Linked DNA regions of Homo sapiens. The protein of the gene in region 1 interacts with the protein of each later gene in a pairwise test. Each region holds a gene or a part of one and is shown in the gene's direction. Other genes may lie near its edges. The genes, in order: KLC1, ODAD1 and ATCAY.

Region 1 (7,108 bases):
TATTTTATTTTTTTTACACGGAGTTTCACTCTTGTTGGCCAGGCTGGAGTGCAATGGCACAATCTCAGCTCACTGCAACCTCTGCCTCCTGGGTTCAAGCGATTCTTCTGCCTCAGGCTCCCGAGTAGCTGGGATTACAGGTGCCTGCCACCACACCCAGCTAATTTTTGTATTTTTAGTAGAGACAGGGTCTTGCTATGTTGGTTGATCTTGAACTCCTGACCTCGGGTGATCTACCCGCCTCAGCCTCCCAGAGTGCTGGGATTACAGGCGTGAGCCACCGTGCCCAGCCTTGGTAGCTTATTTTTAAATTGCATTTGCTACAATTCTCCTGCCTCAGCCTCCCGAGTAGCTGGGACTACAGGTGCATGTCGCCAGGCCTGGCTAATTTTTTGTATTTTAGTAGAGATGGGGTTTCACTGTGTTGCCCAGGCTTGTCTTGAACTCCTGAGCTCAGGCAGTCTGCCCGCCTCAGCCTCCCAAAGTGCTAGGATTGCAGGTGTGAGCCACCGCACCTGGCCACTACTTTTTGGAACTCTATTTTGTACTTGCTGACTTTCACAAAAAGTTTGAGGCAGCTTACAATAGGATGTAATAGGATGAAAGAAGAAACAACAATATATTAATACGTGGCCAGAATTAGTGTGCTTCAGAGGTTGTAGAAGCCTTATTAACCTTTCTCACGTTTTTCAGGGGAAAGCCTTGCCAGGCAGTTACTACTACTCAATTGAGAAAGATGTGTGCTAAGTCTCAAAAGCAAGTACTTGTTCTCAGTCACATCAGTAGTGAGTAGCACGCTTAAACTGAGAGTTTCTGGTTCTGGGGTGTTTCTGTTTTACTCCAATCAAGAAAGATTCTTCGTTCCTCCATACTCAACAAAATGGAGGGAGACTGGGTACCAAGTTCAGACACAACAATATATTTACTTTTGTTTGTTGTTTTTTAAAATATTTTTTCAGTATACATGTAGCATATCATCTTCTTACAGCAAGACTGTGCAATAGATCATATACTTGCTTTGTAGATGGGAAGGCTGGGACTGCGTGAGGTCACGTAATGCACCCAAAGCCATGTAGCCATTAACTGGTAGAGCCCAAGCTCAGACACTAGAATTAATTCTGTCTGAAACCAAATGCAAGCTTGGTCCATTGTTCTAGACTGTTGCACTTATTCTGTGCTGGCCAGCTGGCATAGGCAGGACAACACTGTAGTGTGGGGACATTATCTTCCCAGTGGCCTAGATGGGAAGGTTAAGTTCAGAAGCTAGTTGGGTCTGATTCCAGAGTTCACCTTGCCAGTCCATTTATTGGTGGATTTCCTTCCAGTGTTTTTTCCCCATCCATAAGCTTGTGGTTTTTCTTTTTTCTTTTTTTTTTCTTTTGAGACGGAGTCTTGCTCTGTCACCCAGGCTTTAGTGCAGTGGCGCGATCTATGCTCACTGCAAGCTCCGCCTCCCGGGTTCACATCATTCTCCTGCCTTAGCGTCCCCAGCAGCTGGGACAACAGGCGCATGCTGCCATGCCCGGCTATTTTTTTTTGTATTTTTAGTAGAGACAGGGTTTCACTGTGTTAGCAAGGATGGTCTCGATCTTCTGACCTCGTGATCCGCCCGCCTCAGCCTCCCAAAGTGTTGGGATTACAGGCGTGAGCCACCACACCCATCTTTTTATTTATTTATTTTTTGAGACAGTCTCACTCTGTCGCCTAGGCTGGAGTGCAGTGGCACGATCTCTGCTCACTGCAAGCTCCACCTCCCAGGTTCACGCCATTCTCCTGCCTCAGCCTCCCGAGTAGCTGGGACTAAAGCCGCCTGCTACCACACCCGGCTAATTTTTTTGTATTTTTAGTAGCGATGGGGTTTCACCATGTTAGCCAGGATGGTCTCGATCTCCTGACCTCGTGATCTGCCCGCCTCAGCCTCCCAAAGTGCTGAGATTACAGGCATGAGCCACTGCACCCGGCCCTGTGGTTTTTCTTAAATAGTTTAAGCTTAACTTTTATTTCTGTAGTTGAAAATTACATTTAAAAAAGCTGTAGTGAGGCCGGGCACGATGGCTCATGCCTGTAACCCCAGCACTTTGGGAGGCCTAGGCGGGTGGATCATGAGGTCAGGAGTTTGAGACCACCCTGGCCAACATGGTGAAATCCCGTCTCTACTAAAAATACAAAAATTAGCCGGGCGTGGTGACAGATGCCTGTAATCCCAGCTACTCAGGAGGCTGAGGCAGAGAATTGCTTGAACCCGTGAGGCGGAGGTTGCAGTGAGCCAAGATGGCACCACTGCACTCCAACCTGTGCAACAGAGTCAGACTCTGTCTAAAAAAAAAGAAAAGAAAAGAAAAGAAAAGCTGTAGTGATCTACATCTGAAACACTTAATGTGTGTTTTTCCATTTAGGGATCAGAATAAATACAAAGATGCAGCTAACCTACTGAATGATGCCTTGGCTATTCGTGAGAAAACTTTGGGCAAAGATCATCCTGCGGTTTGTATATCCAGTTCTTTCATTCTTTTAATATTTTATTTTCCCCATATATTTCTTTTATCCAACTCATTTTACCATTAAACTCAACAGGGAAAGTTTAAGTGCTGCCTTTTCCCTAGATGGTGCAGGTAGGAGGTCTTCACTTACTCAGTGCTAGTGACAGGCCAGAGCACACTTAATTTGTTTATGACCCCACCTCAAATGGATCACCAACTGTATTGTTTGATTGTAAATCAAATTGCATGTCCTTCTAGAAATTTTTTTCTGAAAATTATATTGTCTTCATTAAAATCTGGTCAGATTTGCATATGAATCTGTTTTGGTTGGCTTTGTGGCTTCCAGGGAAATTTTTAAAAAGTCAGGAATACGTTGTTGATTTGTTTAATTTTAGTATTCTGCAGTGTTACTTTGTATAATCTATACTCTAGTGAATTGCGCTTTTCATTTTAACTGAAGTCATATTGTTCTATCCGACTAAGAATGCTTTACTGTATAGATTGAATATAAATGAATATGTGGTGTATAAATGTACTCTTATTTGGTTATCTTTTACCATTCTTAGTGGTTCTCTCTGTGTTGACAGGTGGCGGCGACTTTGAATAACCTTGCAGTCCTTTATGGTAAAAGAGGGAAGTACAAAGAAGCAGAGCCGTTGTGTAAAAGAGCTCTGGAAATCCGAGAAAAGGTACAAAAGAAGGGGGCAGTCGTTTTCTTTGAGATTTTTGTTTTGTGTGTGTGTGGTTTTTTTTTTTTTTTTGAGATGGAGTCTCGTTCTGTCACCGGGCTGGAGTGCGGTGGCGTGATCTCGGCTCACTGCAACCCCCACCTCCATGGTTCAGGTGATTCTTCTGCCTCGGCCTTCCAAGTAGCTGGGACTACAGGGACACACCACCACGTCCACCTAATTTTTGTATTTGTAGTAGAGATGGGGTTTCACCATGTTGGCCAGGATGTTCTCAATCTCTTGACCTCCTGATCCGCCCGCCTTGGCCTCCCAAAGTGCTGGGATTACAGGCTGAGCCACTGTGCCCGGCGCTGTTTTTTGTGTTTTTAAAAATTTTTCGGTTTTAGGTTTTGAGAAATAACCACTGTGATGTGTTTTTAACTGACTATTAGCTGAAAACAACTCATTTAATTAGAGAATAGCCCACAAAACAAAGCCAGATTGGCCCATACAAATCAGTGTTTAAGACTCAATTACAGGCTGGGTGCAGTGGCTCATGCTTGTAATCCCAGCACTTTGGGAGGCCAAGGTGGGAGGATCACTTGAGCCTAGGAAGTTTAAGACCAGCCTGGGTAACATAGTGAGACCTCGTCTCTAAAGAAAAAAAAAAGAAAAGAAGGTCCAGTTATGAGGCGTGTGCATTTAGAAAGGTGCAGTCCTGAGTCTGATGCTGTCCAAGCCTGATATGGCCTAGAAGTGACTCTGATTGAAGAAGACATGTCTGAGGACTAGAGATGGAAAGCCTGGGAGCATTGCATTTGACAGTGGAACATGTGCTTGTCAATAAGAAAAACATGATTAAAGATAAATTCACCAAATATGCTTTATGAAGCTGAAAAATGAAATAATTATTATTATAACTAAAGATTAACTCAGAGCTATAGATTAAGTCAATGTCATATATATTTAATACCAGCTGCTACAGTTCATGGTAATTAGGTATTAAAAAATATAACAACTTGTTCATTTCAGCAGTGCTGTGTATGACAATCTCTTTAGATGTTATGAAGATTCGGGTATTGGGTCTATCCGATGAGTGACCACAAATTGTGTTTTTTTTTTTCTGAAACGGAGTCTTGCTGTGTCGCCCAGGCTGGAGTGCAGTGGCACGATCTCGGCTCACTGCAGCCTTCGCCTCCTGGATTCCAGGAATTCTCTTGCCTCAGCCTCCTGGGTAGCTGGGATTACAGGCATGTGCCACAACACCCGGCTAATTTTTGTATTTTTTAGTAGAGATGGGGTTTCACCATGTTGGCCAGGCTGGCCAAGAACTCCTGACCTTAGGTGATCCATCTGCCTTAGCCTCCCACAGTGCTAGGATTACAGGCATGAGCCACTGCACCCAGCCGCACAAATGGTATTTTAACCTGGTATTTTTTGTGATTATTTATCAGTGATTCTTATCAGTTAATTTTGAGCCACATGGCAAGGAATTGGGGGAGAGAAAATAAAAAGGGGCTCCTTATCAAATTATACAGGTAATATTTTATCATGCTGTCAATCTGCATGATATTTCTGAAATAGAATGGTTGAATTTGGGGTGGGCTGGAGTTAAAGTCAGGGAGAGCACAAAAGTATCAAATTAAGGATTAGGAACCATATAAGATGACCTGCCAAATTCATTCATATATTTACCCTTTCATTCATTTAGAGCCCCCTGCTTAGAGTTGGTGATTTACAGATCAGACATGTAGTTCCTCCCACTAGGACACAGTCCACTGGACAGACTGAGGACCGCAGAGGGCACATCAGCATCTAGAATAGAGAGCTCTGGGAGGATATGAAGTGTGGGCTTCTGCGGGCCAGAGCCAGGGGGTGTTGGGGATGGTTTCTCAGGGAAGGTCGGTGTTGGAACTGCATCTTGAATAATTGAGTTAAAAGTGTCCTAGGCAGGGGGAGGTAGGGAATGCAGAAGGGAGTAGAAAGGCAGCTTACCTCCCTGAGGACCACATGTGTAAAGGCACAAAGCGGAGAGAACTCATCACTTGTTCAAGGTACTGAGGGAGGAGGTTAGTGTTCATTCATCTATCTCTGTGCCAGACCCCTTTTTCGATGCGGAGATTACATTGGTGAAGAAGAGAGACAAAGAATTTATACTCTTGGGGCTTACATTGTAATAAAAAATATTCAAGGTAGTTTAGAGAAGTGATTCTTATAAAGAACAACCAGGTGATGTGCCTGTGAGTTCACTAGGTGAGGTGGGGTGGTATAGGGAAGTCTCCTTTGAGGGGAACTGAGGAGAACCCTGAAGGATAAGTCGTAGCTAGTAGGGAGGGCTAGGAGAAGAGCATCCTGGGCAACTGGGACAGCTGTGGGCTCTTCAGAAGCTGGCAGTAAAACTCACATAGCCTTTACAAAGCCCATTTCCTTATCTTCAAAATGTGCCTAATGTGTACATTTGTACATAGTACAACCAATGTACAAAAATATAACTACCATGAAGGATTACTACAGTAATTAACACAGCTAAAGAAGATGAGCACAGTTCCCTCCCTCCCCTCATGAATAAGAATTTGAGAAATTCTGGTTATTTTATTACTACGTGGTGTAGCGAGCCAGTTAAGGATTTAAATCTGAAAGTGTAGCACAGTCGTGCTTATGTTGAGGAAGATCCTGATGTGACAGTAGGGTGGAGAATGGATTGGATGGAAGCAGAACAAGTGTCTCTAATATGCTGTTTTTTATTTTCAGGTTTTGGGGAAGGATCACCCCGATGTTGCCAAGCAGTTAAATAACTTGGCCTTACTGTGCCAGAACCAGGGCAAGTATGAAGAAGTAGAATATTATTATCAAAGAGCCCTCGAGATCTACCAGACAAAACTGGGACCTGATGACCCCAACGTGGCTAAGACGAAAAATAACCTGGTGTGTTGACTGCACAGCACTAGGGAGGGGGCCAGGAGTGCTTTCGTCCCAAGTCCAAACACTTTCTCATTTAACTGGAGATTAAAATGTATGCTTTATTTACATCTGAAAGATATGAAATATTTTATTTTATTTTATTTTAAGGCATCCTGCTATTTGAAACAAGGAAAGTTCAAGCAAGCAGAAACACTGTACAAAGAGATTCTCACTCGTGCACATGAAAGGGAGTTTGGTTCTGTAGATGGTAAGAAATATACTCCCGTTTCAAGTGAATTTAATTGTATAATGACTTGACTAATAGTAATATACTAATAGTATTAGTTACTGTTTATTAAGCACTTAACTTTGTACATCACTAAGCTAAATAGTTTAAATGTGTGATTTCACTTCACTTTCACAGCAGTCTTGTGCAGCGGGTCAAACATTACCCCATTTTAAAAGCAAGGATACCACAGGCCGGGCGTGGTGGCTCACGCCTGTAATTCCAGCACTTTGGGAGGCCGAGGTGGGTGGATCACGAGGTCAGGCGATCGAGACCATCCTGGCTAACACAGTGAAACCCCGTCTCTACTAAAAATACAAAAACTTAGCCGGGTGTGATGGCGGCCGCCTGTAGTCCCAGCTACTCGGGAGGCTAAGGCAGGAGAATGGCGTGAACCCGGGAGGCGGATCTTGCAGTGAGCCGAGATCGTGCCACTGCACTCCAGCCTGGGCAACAGAGTGAGACTCTGTCTCAAAAAAAAAAAAAGACACCACAGACTAAGTGACTTGTGTGAGGCCCCGTAGCTGAGAAGCAGTTAGACTGGGATTACAGTGCCCAGAGCCCATAACATGTCCTCATTGCAGAGACCTATACAGTTCACGCAGAAATGGAGACAGGAGCATCACCCAAATCCATCTTCATGTCCTCATTGCAGAGACCTACCCAATTCATGCAGAAATGGAAACAGGAGAATCACCCAAATTCATCTTTTCACATTTTTAATGTCTTTCCTTCCTTCTGTGCCTTTGGTTTACAGATTTCAAACCATACCG
Region 2 (7,108 bases), on another chromosome or scaffold:
AGCTGTGGCCTGGGTCGGCCTTAGGGTCTCTGTGATTTCTCTCTTTCTCTCTCTCTGTTAAAACAAACGTGGCAAAATTCACCATTTTAAAGCGTAGAATGTAGCAGCATTTAGTACATTCACGGGGCCGTGCAACCGCACCACTTCTGTCTAGATCTGAAATATTTCCATCACTCCAAAAGGAAAACTACCTGCCACCGGGAAGTACAGGAATCCTCGCTTTTTAGTCTTACTTGGGAGAAAGAATTCTGCCAAGAGACTGATTTAGCCAACAAAGAGAATTTACTGAAGGCAAATAGAGAACAGAGAGTTTACCTAGAGAGAGACAGTACACTCTGAAGGATGAGGAGAGCAGGCTGCTGAAAGAACGTGAGCCAGCAGCACACCGAGAGTTTTGTGTTGTGTTTCTAATATGATGTCGCACTCTTTTGAAGTTCTTGCTTCTGTCTTTTTTTTTTTTTTGAGACAGTTTCGCTCTTGCCACCCAGGCTGGAGTGCAGTGGTGCGATCTCAGCTCACTGCAATCTTCACCTCCCAGGTTCAAGCGATTCTCTTGCCTCAGCCTCCCAAGTAGTTGGGATTACAGGCATGCACCACCAGGTCTGGCTAATTTTTGTATTTTTAGTAGAGATGGAGTTTCACCATGTTGGCCAGGCTGGTTTCAAACTCCTGACTGCAGGTGATCCTCCTGCCTCCCAAAGTGCTGGGATTACAGCCTGAGCCACCGTGCCCAGCCAGTTCTCTGCTTTTTGTGACCACAGGATAACTGCAACCTGATTCAGCCCCATTCCTGTGACCCCAGGCTGGCCCTGCCCATCTGGGACACCAGCTGACTCCACCTCACCCCCCACAACCTCTGGCTGACCCCGCCCATCCCCAGGACCCCAGGCCGACCCCAGTCCAGCCTCCAGTCATCCTGACCCCGGCTGACCCCCGCAGGGAGGAGGCGAAGGCCAAGATGGGCTTGCTGCGGGAGCGCGCGGAGAAAGAGGAGGCCCAGAGCGAGATGGAGGCGCAGGTCCTGCAGCGGCAGATCTTGCACCTGGAGCAGCTGCACCACTTCCTCAAGCTCAAGAACAACGACCGGCAGCCGGATCCCGATGTCCTGGAGAAGCGTGAAAAGCAGGGTGAGGCTGGGGCTGCTGCCTTTGCATCTCAAGGGCCTGGCCGCCCCTGGGGCACCTGCAGCACACCTTCGTGCCCCAGGTGGGACCACACTTCGCTCCCCCTCACCCAGGAGGTCTCTGTGTTGGAGGCCACCCAGGAGGCCGACCTGCTGTTCTCTCTTCCCCTAGCCGGGGAGGTGGCCGAGGGCGTCTGGAAGACCTCCCAGGAGAGGCTGGTGCTTTGCTACGAGGACGCCCTGAATAAACTGTCCCAGCTGATGGGGGAGAGTGACCCTGACCTGTTGGTGCAGAAGTATCTGGAGAGTGAGTGGGGCCCTGGGTGGAGGGAGGAGGCCCGGGACCCCGGCACCCCCTGAGTCCAGTGCAGGCTGGCCTCAGCTCTGGCCCTGGGGAACTCCTCCATCTGTGCTGGAGGAACAAGGCGTCATGCCTGGGACCCGCCGCCCGCGTCCACTGGCGTCTTACCGTGGCCCTGTCTCTGCCCCTCCCCACCCCCTCCTAACTCCTGGGCCTGGGGTCACTCTCCACATCCTTCCCTCAACCCTGTCCCTCTCTGTTTCTCTCCTTACCCATATCTACCGTTCTCCCCGCCTGCATCTCCCCATCTCCCTTGCTATTGCCGAGTCTCTGGCTTTCCCTCTCTGCCTTGCTGTGTATTTCTGTGTCCCACCTGCCGTATCTTCCCACACCTCTTTGTCTCTGTGACTCCTCTCTGTTCGTCTCTCTGCCTTGGTTTCTGTGTGGCCTTCCTCATCTTCACTTTCTTTGGCCTTCTGTATGCCTCTCTGTCTCTGTTCTCTCTGTCTCTGTTTCTCTGTCTCCCTCTCTCTGGGCCCCGCCTTGCCCAACTCTCCCAGTCGAGGAGCGCAACTTTGCTGAGTTCAACTTCATCAACGAGCAGAACTTGGAGCTGGAGCATGTGCAGGAAGAGATCAAGGAGGTGAGTGAGGCCTGCCCTCTCCATCTCCTCCTCTCCTCCCGGCCTCCCCGCCCCCTTCCCTCCCTCAGCCTGCCTCCTGCTTCTTCCTAGCTCCACACCCCCAACTCCCGAGGCTGCCATCTGGCCCAGCATTCAGCCCTGTCCCCACAGATGCAGGAGGCTTTGGTGAGCGCACGTGCCAGCAAGGATGACCAGCATTTGCTGCAGGAGCAGCAGCAGAAGGTGTTGCAGCAGCGCATGGACAAGGTGCACTCGGAGGCTGAGCGCCTTGAGGCCCGCTTCCAGGATGTGCGGGGACAGCTGGAGAAGCTCAAGGCTGGTGAGCACCCATGGGCGCCCCCTCCCGAGCCTGGCTTCTCCACTTGGAAGGACACCATCAGCCCGCGGGGCTTGGAGGCATTGCATGGACAACCTGGTTCACTTGCTTATCAGTTGCCCCATATCTGTCCATCTTTCCAACCAGGGTCTATCCCTCCAACTGTCCCATGTCCATCTATCCATCCATCATCTGTCCCTCCAACTGTCCTACACCCATCCATCCATCCATCTATCAATGCATCCATCCATCCATCTAGGGTTGATCCCTCCAACTGTCCCATATCCATCCATCCATCCATCCATCCATCCATCCATCCATCCATCCATTCAACGTCTGTCTCTCCAATTATCCTATATCCATCCATCCATTCAGAGTCTATCCCTTCAACTGTCCTATATCCATCATCCATTCAGGATCTATTCCTTCATCTGTCCTATATCTATCTCTCCATCCAGGGTCTATCCCTCCATTCTGTCCCATATCCATCTATCTATCCAGGGTCTGTTCCTTCATCTGTTCTATATCTATCTACCCATCCAGGACCTACCCCTCCATCTGTCCTATATCCATCCATCCATTCATCCATCCATCCATCCATTCATCCACCCATCCATCCATCCATCCAGGGTCTATTCCTCCAACTGTCCTGTATCCATCATTCATCCAGGATCTATTCCTTCATCTGTCCTATATCTATCTCTCCATCCAGGTTCTATACCTCCATCTGTCCCATATCCATCTATCTATCCAGGGTCTATTCCTTCATCTGTCCCATATCTATCCATCCAGGATCTACCCCTTCATCTGTCCTATATCCATCTGTCCGTATATCCATCCATCCATCCATCCATCCATCCATCCATCCATCCATCCATCCAGGATCTATTCCTCCAACTGTCCCATGTCCATCCATCCATGCAGGGTCTATCCCTCCAACTGTCCCATGTCCATCCATCCATCCAGGGTCTATCCCTCCATCTGTCCCATGTCCATCAATCCATCCATTGTCTATCTGTCCATCTGCCTCCAACAGCCCCACATCCATCTGTTCATCCATCTATCTGCAATGACATTTGACTTTTGTCTTCCTAGTCTTAGTCTTAGTTACCAAATTTCTTCTTAGTCTTAGTTACCAAATTTCTTCTTAGTCTTAGTTACCAAAAATGTTATTATTTGTAAAGAAAATGATGATAAAATATAATAGCAATGTTTATTATGTGTCATTCACTGTGCAAGGCACTTATGCATTATTCCACTTGTTTCACAAAACACTAAAAAACAGATGCTGTCCCTCCAACTGTCCCATATCCATCATCCACCCATCCATCCATCTACCCAGTATTCATCCATGGATCATCCATGTACATCTCTGTCTATAAATGCCTAGCAGTGGGACCGATGGGTCTTAGGGTAGGTATATGTTGATATTTATTAGAAAATGCCGAACAGTTTTCCACACTGGTCGCAAGATTTTATGCTCTCACCTATGCGAGCATATGGGAGTCCCCGATGATCCACACCTTTTCCACCACTTCCTAGTGTCAGCCATTTTTTATCTTGTTTTGTTTTTGAGATGCAGTCTTGCTCTGTCACCAGGCTGGAGTGCAATGGCATGATCTCGGCTCACTGCAACCTCCGCTTCCTGGGTTCAAGCGATTCTCCTGCCTCAGCCTCTCCAGTAGCTGGGACTACAGGTGTGCGCCACCACGCCCAGCTAATTTTTGTATTTTTAGTAGAGTCGGGGTTTCATCACGTTGGCTAGGATGGTCTCGATCTCTTGACCTCGTGATCTGCCCGCCTCGGCCTCCCAAAGTGCTGGGATTACAGGCGTGAGCCCCCGTGCCTGGCCGTCAGCCATTTTAATATTAGCCATCTAACGTGTGTGCCGTACTCTCTCTATTAATTTAATTGGCATTTCCCTGGTGACTAATAATATTGAGCATCGTATTGGCCATTCAGATGTTTTTGTAAAGTTCCTGTTCAATCTTGTGCACTTGTTTTTTTAAAAATTGGGTTTGTCTTGCTATAACTGAGTTGAAGGAGTTCTTTGTATATTCTAGATACTAGACTTTTGGTAAATATTTTCTCTTATACTGTAGCTTGCCTTTTCATTTTTTTTGGTGATGAACTGAAGTTTCTTAGTTTTGAGGATATCTAATTTATGAAATTTTCTTTTTGTAGTTAATGACTTTGTGGCCTGCCTAAGAAATTTTTGCCTGTCCTGAGGTTACAAAGGCATTATGCTGTGTTTTCTCCTAGAAGTTTCATTGTTTGAACTCCCACATTGAAGTCTGTGACTTATGACAAATTGATTTGCATTATGGTATGAGGTAGGGGTCTAGAGTTTCCTTTTTAAAAATTTTTTTAGATTTTTTTCATTTATTTATTTTTTGAGAGGAATTTCGCTCTTTTGCCCAGGCTGGAGTGCAGTGGCACAATCTCGGCTCACTGCAACCTCTGCCACCCAGGTTCAAGCAGTTCTGCCTCAGCCTCCTGAGTTGCTGGGATTACAGGTGCCCGCCACCACGCCCAACTAATTTTGGTATTTTTAGTAGAGACGGGGTTTCGCCATGTTGGCAGGCTGGTCTCAAACTCCTGACCTCAGGTGATCTGCCCGCCTCAGTATCCCAAAGTGCTGGGATTACATATGCATGAGCCACTGTGCCCGGCCCTTTTTTTTTTTAGAGATAGGATTTTACTATGTTGTCCAGGCTAGTCTTGAACTCCTGGACTCAAGTGATCCTCCTGTCTTGGACTCCCAAAGTGCTGGGATTATAGGCATGAGCCACCACTCCTGGCTGAGTTTCTTTTTTTTTTTTTTAATCCCTTCTGTGGGTATGTTGCATCCACCTGTGCATCCTTTTTTTCTATTATTATTATTATTTTTTAAAATTTGAGAAAGTCTCGCTCTGTTCCCCAGGTTGGAGTGCAGTGGCACGATCTCGGCTCACTGCAATCTCCCCCTCCTGGTTCAAGCGATTCTCCTGCCTCAGCCTCCCAGTAGCTGGGATTACAGGCACACACCACCACACCCAGCTAATTTTTGTATTTTTAGTGGAGGGGGGTTTTGCCATGTTGGTCAGGCTGGTCTCAAACTCCTGACTTGAGGTGATCCACCCGCCTTGGCTTCCCAAAGTGCTGGGATTACAGGTGTGAGCCACTGCGCCGGGCCTCATCTTTCTTATTTTTCAGGAAGTAGCCATGCAGAGCACTCAGGAGTCAGGCTGTCCTGTTTCTTTTCTCTTTTTTAAAACATTTATTGTTAGCTTTTATTTGTTTTTTTGAGATGGAATCTCACGCTGTCAGCCAGGCTGGAGAGCAGTGGTGTGATCTGGGCTTACTGCAACGTCCATCTCCCGGGTTCAAGCAATTCTCCTGCCTCAGCCTCTCCAGTAACTGGGATTACAGGCCTGCACTACCATGCCCGGCTAGTTTTTTTGTATTTTTAGTAGAGACAGGGTTTCACCATGGTGGCCAGGCTGGTCTCAAACTCCTGACCTCAAATGATCTGCCTGCCTTGGCTTCCCAAAGTGCTGGATTACAGGCGTGAGCCACTGCACCCAGCCTGTCCTGGGTTTGAATCTCAGCTCCACCAATTGTGAACCTTGGTGTGTGGCTTCCTCCTTCCGCTCTGGGAATGGGGATGGCAGTGCCTACTTTGCAGGGTTGTCATGAGAATTAGAAGGGATGACGGATGGAGAGAAAGGTGGGGGGTGGTGGGGAGCGAGCTGGAGAGCCTCCTCGGGGCATACCGTAGGAGCTCAGATATGGGCAGGTCCTCCTTCCTGCTGTCGTGATGGCTGATCCGAGCCCTGTGCTAGGTGATGTGGGCACAGTGGGGAGAGGCCCTGGAGGGGACTGACCTGCGCACTGGGCACTCATCACTCAGGGGCTAGGACAGAGGACGCCCAGGCACTGGGGGCGAGAGAAGGCCCTAACTCAGTCTGGGGTGCAAGACCATAATTTGTGGGGCCCAGTGCAGAATGAGGGGCCCCTTGTTAAAAAATTGCTGAGATTTTCAAGATAGGAAGAGCAGCAGCGTGTCAAGCCAAGTGCAGGCCCCTCACCACTGCCTGGATCTCACACTCATGAGGCTGGCTCTGCTGGGGTCACTGGGAAGGCTTCCTGGAGGCAGTGACACTTGAGGCTGACTTTGAAGGACAAGTCAGGGAGAGAGGGATGCACAGCAGTGCCGTCCCCCTGCCTGGCTGGCTGAGCTCGGGTGACTCCCTTTTGGTCTCTGAGCCTTGACCGCAGTCTCTGTAGAATGGGGCAGTGAGGACCTGAGTGGGGAGAGGGCTGGCACCCAGCTGGCGGTGCCAGATCCCTGACAACCGGCCCTCCATGACGCAGATATCCAGCTCCTCTTCACCAAGGCCCATTGCGACAGCAGCATGATCGATGACCTCCTTGGGGTCAAGACCAGCATGGGAGACCGGGACATGGGCCTCTTCCTGAGCCTCATTGAGAAGCGGCTGGTGGAGCTCCTGACAGTGCAGGCCTTCCTACATGCCCAGGTGGGAGACGGCAGGGAGCCGGGACAGGAGGCCGGTCTCGGGGGTGGCCCAGCTGACCGCAGGCTCCCACACTCTCCAGAGCTTCACCTCCCTGGCCGACGCTGCCCTCCTAGTGCTGGGCCAGAGCCTGGAGGACCTTCCGAAGAAGATGGCCCCACTTCAGCCCCCTGACACTCTGTGAGGCGCAGGGCAGGAGGGACGCAGA
Region 3 (7,108 bases), on another chromosome or scaffold:
TCTCCCTCTCTCTTTTTTTCCATACATATAGGAAAAAAATATGTATACACACACACACACACACACACACGTCCTATTGGATTTGTTTCCCTGGAGCACTCTGATTAAAATAGGAGACTATCCTGGATCCTGTATTATCCAGGTGGCCTGACATCGTTACAGGATCCTCATGAGTGGAGACAGGAGGGTGAGAGTCAGAGAAAGCCTAGAAGAAGATGGGCTGCTTTCACAATTTGTCTGCACAAGAGATATGTCTCTTCTCCTTTATTTATTTATTTATTTATTTTTGAGATAGAGTTTCACTCTGTCACCCAGGCTGGAGTGCAATGGTACGATCTTGGCTCACTGTAACCTCCGCCTCCTGGGCTCAAGTGATTCTCCTGCCTCAGACTCCCAAGCAGCTGGGATTACAGGCGCCACCACTGTGCCCGGCTAATTTTTATATTTTTAGTAGAGATGGGGTTTCGCCATGTTGGCCAGGCTGGTCTCGAACTCCTGACCTCAGGTGATCTGCCCGCCTCGGCCTCCAAAGTGCTGGGATTACAGGCGTGAGCCACCGCACCCGGCCCAAAGTCAGGCTTTGAACTCATGTCTGCCCAATGTCCAAGCATCCATCCCCTTAATCTCTGAGGCTTGCCCACAGGACAGAGGTTATAACATTCACCCCTGTCAGGATGATGTCGGTTTAATTCTGCCCACCCCCGCCAATGGCATGGATACAGAAGGGAGCCCACCCTCTCTTCCCATTCCTGCATGATGAAACAGCTTCCACCAGGTAGGAAAATGGGGGGAAGGTAAAAGAGAGAAAGCAAAGATGTTTTCCATTTTTCTCATTTCCCTGCAGCTCCTCCCAACACGCTAAATTTCAACGGAGCGCATCGTAAGAGGAAGACGCTGGTGGCCCCAGAGATCAACATTTCTCTGGATCAGAGTGAGGGGTCCCTGCTGTCCGATGACTTCTTGGATACCCCTGATGACCTGGATATTAACGTGGATGACATCGAGACCCCCGATGAGACCGACTCGCTGGAGTTCCTGGGGAATGGCAACGAACTGGAGTGGGAAGGTAAAGTTCAGGGTCTCTCTGGGGCCTGCTGGAGCCCACCCCCCCCACCCCACCTTTCCGTCTCTGGATTCCCATAGGCTCAGAGAGTCACAAGTGGGGCAGGGGCTCTAAGCAGTCTAGCCTTAAACCCAGGAGATCAAGACTGCAGTGAGACGTGATCATGCCACTGCACTCCAGCCTGGACAACAGAGTGAGACCCTGTCTCAAAAATAAAATTTTTAAAAAAGAGAGAGGTGGCTGGGCGCAGTGGCTCATGCCTGTAATCCTAGCACTTTGGGAGGCCGAGGCGGGCAGATCACGAGGTCAGGAGATCGAGACCATCCTGGCTGACACAGTGAAACCCCGTCTCTACTAAAATACAAAAAATTAGCCAGGCATGGTGGCGGGCACCTGAAGTCCCAGCTACTCAGGAGGCTGAGGCAGGAGAACGGTGTGAACCCAGGAGGCCGAGCTTGCGGTGAGCCAAGATTGTGCCACTGCACTCCAGCCTGGGCGACAGAGCGAGACTCCGTCTCAAAAAAAAAAAAAAAGAGAGAGAGAGGTTGGTGAATGGGTACCAACATACAGTTAGACAGAAGGAATAAGTTCTATTGTTCGATAGCAGAATAGGAGGGGTGCCAGGAGGAGGGTCCATCCGCTCCTGCGACTGTTTTTTTTTTTTTTTTGAGACAGAGTCTCACTCTGTTGCCCAGGCTGGAGTGCAGTGGTGTGATCTCAGCTCACTGCATCCTCCACCTCCCGGGTTCAAGCGATTCTTTTGCCTCAGCCTCCCGAGTAGCTGGGATTACAGGCATGCACTACCACTTCCGGCTGATGTTTATATTTTTAGTAGAGATGGGGTTTTCCCATGTTGCCCAGGCTGGTCTCAAACTCCTGACTTCAAGTGATACACCCACCTCGGCCTCCCAAAGTGCTGGGATCACAGGTGTGAGCCACGGCGCCCAGCCTGCCCCTGCAATTTGATGCATATTTTTCTTGTGGGCTTGTGAATTTTTCTGCAGAACGTGGCTTTCATCAGAATCTCAAAGGCGACCAAGATCCCAACAAACTGCCCTCGATGTATGCAACAAATACTTTTTGACCATTTACTCCAGGGCAAGTCCTGATTCAGGCGTGGGGTATATGGCAGGGCTATGATAAGAAGAGATGGTCCTGGTCCCTACCTGCACACACAGATCATCAGAAAGACAGACCACGAAAGGCCAGGCGCAGTGACTCACGCCTGTAATCCCAGCACTTTGGGAGGCTGAGGTGGGCAGATCACCTGAGGTCAGGAGTTTGAGACCAGCCTGGCCAACATGGTGAAGCTCCATCTCTACTAAAAATACAGAAATTAGCCGGGCATGGTGGCGTGCGTAGTCCCAGCTACTCGGGAGGCTGAGGCAGGAGAATCGCTTGAACTCTGGAGGCAGAGGCTGCAGTGAGCAGAGATCGCACCACTCCACTCCAGCCTGGGCGATGGAACAAGACTCTCTCAAAAAAAAAAAAGAAAGAAAAAAAAAAATTAAGGACAATGTAGTGGCTCATTCCTGTAATCCCAGAGCTTCGGGAGGCCAGGGTAGGAGGATCGCTTAAGGCCAGGAGTTTGAGACCAGCCTGGGCAACATATTGAAACCCCATCTCTACAAAAATATAAAAATTAGCTGGGTGTGGTGGTGCACAACTGTAGTCCCAGGTATCTGGGAGGCTGAGGCAGGAGGACTGCTCTCTGTGTGCCAGGCTCCTGGGAGAGTAAAAACCAAGCATGCATGCCCCGAGTATCCTCGTGGTTTGATGAAGCAGATGCATTCACCAGCTCTGAGAAGCTCCAGGACACAGGTCCTTAACCAACAGAGTGCCCTGGGAGGCCAGCAAAGGGAATGTCCAGAAAGGCTTCCTGGAGGAGGCGGCATTTGAGCCAGGCCTTGAAAGGGGAGTAGGAGAGGAAAATGGGTCAGCAGGGCAGCCAGGTGGGGAGAAGCGAAGGACTTGTGGGTCCCGGCAGCGAGGGAGGTGGGAGAGGGGAAGGAAGGCTGAGCAGGAGGGCAGGAGATATCCGGACTCTGGCGTCCATGCGACTCTCCGCCACCTGCTTCTAGACGACACCCCCGTGGCCACCGCCAAGAACATGCCCGGGGACAGCGCGGATCTATTTGGGGACGGCACGACGGAGGACGGCAGCGCCGCCAACGGGCGCCTGTGGCGGACAGTGATCATCGGGGAGCAAGAGCACCGTATAGACCTGCACATGATCCGGCCTTACATGAAAGTGGTCACCCACGGAGGTGAGACCCGCCCCCCGGTGCCCCCTTGGGGCTCCAGCCCGGCCCACTGGGCAACAGGGGGTTCGTCAGTGCCCCTCTCTGATGCACGGGGATGTTAAGCCGTCAACTCGCTTCGGGTGGACGGACTGTGGGCAAGGCGTGCATGGTCAGGGAGGCGCACTGGGGGCCCCTGATGGTCGCTGTCACTCCTCAGCGAAGGCAGAGACTGGCTAAGGGGTCGCCGGCTGCTGTGGCTCGGAGCCATGCCCTCCCGAGCGTGTGGGCACCGGGACGTGGTGGGTGGTGCGCGGGAGGCAGCTCAGGGCTGGGAGAGGACTCTGACGTTGCCGATCGGCTGCCTCTCCTCAGGGTACTACGGCGAAGGCCTCAACGCCATCATCGTCTTCGCAGCCTGCTTCCTTCCAGACAGCAGCCTCCCCGACTACCACTACATCATGGAGAACCTCTTCCTGTGAGTCCCCGCCCGCGGCGAGCAGCCTCGGGCCAGCTCTGATGCCTCCCTGGCCACAGGGGCACCAGGCTGCAAGGATTGCATTGTGGCCCTAGGAAGCCTGCCTGGCACCAGGGAAGGGCGTGGTGGCCACAGACCTTGATCTGAGTCCCTGCTGGCCCTGAGGCTCACAGTGGCCTTCCCTCTGGGCCACCCTGTTCTCCTCCCCGTCCTCCTCCTCCTCCTCTTCCTCCTCCTTCCCCTCCTCCTCACTGTCCTCCTCCTCCTCCCCTTCTTCCTCCCCCTTCCCCTTTCTTCTCCTCCTTCTCCTCCCCTTCTTCCTCCCCCCTCCTCCTCCCTTTTCTCCTCCTCCTCCCCTTCCCTCTCCTCCTCCCCCTCTTCCCCTTCCCTCTCCTCCTCCCCCCTCTTCCTTCTCCTCCTCTTCCTCCCCTTTCTCCACCTCATCCTCTTTCTCTTCCTCCCCTTTCTCCCCCCTTCCTCCTCCTTCTCCTCCTTCCCTCATCTTCCTCTCCTTCCCTCTCCTCCCCCTCCCCATCCTCCTCCTCCCCATCCTCTTCCCCTTCCTCCTCCTCTTCCCGCTCTGAGATGGCACCACTGCACTCCAGCCTGGGTGACAGAGTGAGAACCTGTCTCAAAAAAAAAAAAAAAAAAAAAAAGCAAGGCCTAGAGACCAGCCTGGCCAACATAGTGAAATCCTGCCTCTACTAAAACTACAATTTAGCTGGGCTCGGTGGCAGGCGCCTGTAATCCCAGCTACTAGGGAGGCTGTGGCAGGAGAATGGCGTGAACCTGGGAGGCGGAGCTTGCAGTGAGCCGAGATCGCACCACTGCACTCTAGCCTGGGCAACAGAGCGAGATTCCGTCTCAAAAAAAAAAAACGACTCAATAAAAGAGTAACTGCCCTATGAGGATGCCCGCTGACACTCATGTGGAGTGTGCTGGGATCATCCACGTCCTCTCCCACCCTGCAGTCCGCCAGGACAGCAGACAACACCTGGACCAGTGGGGCTGACCCAGCCAGCGGCAGGAGTGGAGGCAGGCAGGGTCGGCACCGCAGGTGTCCTGACCCTGGACCCCTCCATGTTGGGTCCCTGCCTTCTGTGCCCCGTGAGCAGGTACGTCATCAGCAGCTTAGAGCTCCTGGTGGCTGAGGACTACATGATCGTGTACCTGAACGGTGCCACGCCCCGGCGGAGGATGCCTGGAATCGGCTGGCTGAAGAAGTGCTACCAGATGATCGACCGGAGGTGAGGTGGGGATGCCTCAGGAAGCACAGTGGGGGCATGAAAATCACACAGGGGGCTGGACATGGTGGCTCACACCTGGAATCCCAGCACTTCGGGAGGCTGAGGTGGGAAGGTCCCTTGAGCCCAGGAGTTTGAGACCAGCCTGGGCAACGCAGCAAGACGCTGTCTCTACAGAAAAACTTTTAGGCCGGGCAAGGGGGCTCACACCTCTAATCCCAGCACTTTGGGAGGCCAAGGTGGGTGGATCACCTGAGGTCAGGAGTTCAAGACCAGCCCGGCCAACATATAGTGAAACCCCATCTCTACTAAAAAAATTCAAAAATTAGCTGGGCGTGGTGGCGCATGCCTGTAGTCCCAGCTACTTGGGAAGCTGAGGCAGGAGAATCACTTGAACCCAGGAGGTGGAGGTTGCAGTGAGCCGAGATCATGCCACTGCACTTCAGCCTGGGCAACAGAGCGAGACTCTGTCCCCATGAAACACTCACTCCCTATTCCTTCTCCCCAGGCTCCGGCACCCCCCATCCTACTTTCTGTCTCTGTAAATCTGATGACTCTAGGGACCTCCTAGGACTGGAATCACACAGGATTTGTCCTTTTGTGTCTGGCTTTCCTCACTGAGTGTGATGTCCTCAGGGTGCATCCACATTGTAGCCTGTGTCAGAGCCTCCTTCCTTTTCATGGCTGCATAATATTCCACTGTATGGACATACCACATTTGGTTTGTCCATTCCATTCATCTCTTGATGGACATGGGTTGCTTCCACCCCTGAGTTATTGTAAATAGCCTCAGAGTGACATTAAAATTGAGCCAGCCAATCCATCCTTGCACCCAGGTTAGTGGAGGGAGGCTCCAAGGACAGGCTGGTCCCTCCTAGGGCATTAGGTGGTGAAAATACAATCTTGGCTGCTCAAATAACTACCAACCTGGTTCACCTGCTCTGCACCATGGGGTCTCTACCTACCTCATCCACCTGAGGGTCTTAGGGACTCAAAGGGTGTGTCTTTATCCCACCATAGGACCCCCATGTCTTGGATGGGGGCAGGGATTTGACAGGTACCTGGAGACCACACGTGGAATGAGCAGAGTGACGAATGCTTGCTTGTGGCTCTCCCGTCCCACCCAGCTCCTCCCTCCCCAGGGCTCGCCCCAGGAGCCCATCTTGCTTCCTTTGCGGCCCCACACAGGTTGCGGAAAAACCTGAAGTCCTTGATCATCGTCCACCCCTCGTGGTTCATTCGGACTGTGCTGGCCATCTCTCGCCCTTTCATCAGGTGAGACGGGGAGGCTGCAACCCAAGTCCAGTGGCCTCAGTGTGCGTGTGTGCGTGTGTGTATGCATGCATTTGTGTGTGCATGTGTGCACGTGTGTGCGTGTGTGCATCTGTGTGTGTGTGCATCCATGTGTGTGTTTGATGTGCATGTTCCAGCTTCTCTATGATGAATACATATTATTGCTTTAAACAGTTTTAAATTGCACACAGCCAGGCACAGTGGCTGACACCTGTAATCCCAGCTACTCAGAAGGCTGAGGTGGGAGGATCGTTTGAGGCCAGCCTGAGCAACATAGCAAAACCCCCATCTCTACAAAAAATACAAAAATTAGCAGGACGTGGTGGTGCACACCTGTAGTTTCAGCTACTTGGGAGGCTCACGTGGGAGGATGGCTTGAGCCCAGGAGATCAAGGCTGCAATGAGCCGTGATCGAGCCACTGTACTCCAGCCTGGATGACAGAGTGAGACCCTGTCTCAAAAGAAAATCAGTCATGCATGGCATCACATGCCTGTAGTCCCAGCTACTCAGGAGGCTGAGGCAGGAGGATCACTTGAGCCCAGGAGGTAGAGGCTGCAGTGAGCTATGATCACTCCACTGCACTCCAGCCTGGGAGACAGAGCAAAACAACCCTGTCTCTAAAAATAAAATATATATATATGTATGTATAAATAAATAAATAATATGACTAATAAATTTAAAATTTAAAACTACATATATTCTATAATGTATATCATATATAGTTACTATATTAAACATATAGTAAAACAGATCAAGTGAAATAAAATTAGGCATGTTAAATGCCCTATT

What was found.
Region 2: the proteins of KLC1 (region 1) and ODAD1 interact in binary tests that used the Homo sapiens proteins (3 or more experiments, as listed by UniProt).
Region 3: the proteins of KLC1 (region 1) and ATCAY interact in binary tests that used the Homo sapiens proteins (3 or more experiments, as listed by UniProt).

Annotation. Positions count from the first base shown.
Region 1 is NC_000014.9:103,667,115-103,674,222, forward strand, and holds part of KLC1 (kinesin light chain 1), read left to right. Parts: intron 1-2,396; coding exon 2,397-2,484; intron 2,485-3,067; coding exon 3,068-3,169; intron 3,170-5,899; coding exon 5,900-6,073; intron 6,074-6,217; coding exon 6,218-6,317; intron 6,318-7,108. UniProt on the Homo sapiens protein: Kinesin is a microtubule-associated force-producing protein that may play a role in organelle transport. The light chain may function in coupling of cargo to the heavy chain or in the modulation of its ATPase activity.
Region 2 is NC_000019.10:48,297,972-48,305,079, reverse strand, and holds part of ODAD1 (outer dynein arm-docking complex subunit 1), read left to right. Parts: intron 1-939; coding exon 940-1,127; intron 1,128-1,295; coding exon 1,296-1,430; intron 1,431-1,984; coding exon 1,985-2,067; intron 2,068-2,217; coding exon 2,218-2,386; intron 2,387-6,739; coding exon 6,740-6,903; intron 6,904-6,982; coding exon 6,983-7,080; intron 7,081-7,108. UniProt on the Homo sapiens protein: Component of the outer dynein arm-docking complex (ODA-DC) that mediates outer dynein arms (ODA) binding onto the doublet microtubule. Involved in mediating assembly of both ODAs and their axonemal docking complex onto ciliary microtubules.
Region 3 is NC_000019.10:3,904,590-3,911,697, forward strand, and holds part of ATCAY (caytaxin), read left to right. Parts: intron 1-844; coding exon 845-1,066; intron 1,067-3,144; coding exon 3,145-3,330; intron 3,331-3,678; coding exon 3,679-3,781; intron 3,782-4,896; coding exon 4,897-5,028; intron 5,029-6,213; coding exon 6,214-6,300; intron 6,301-7,108.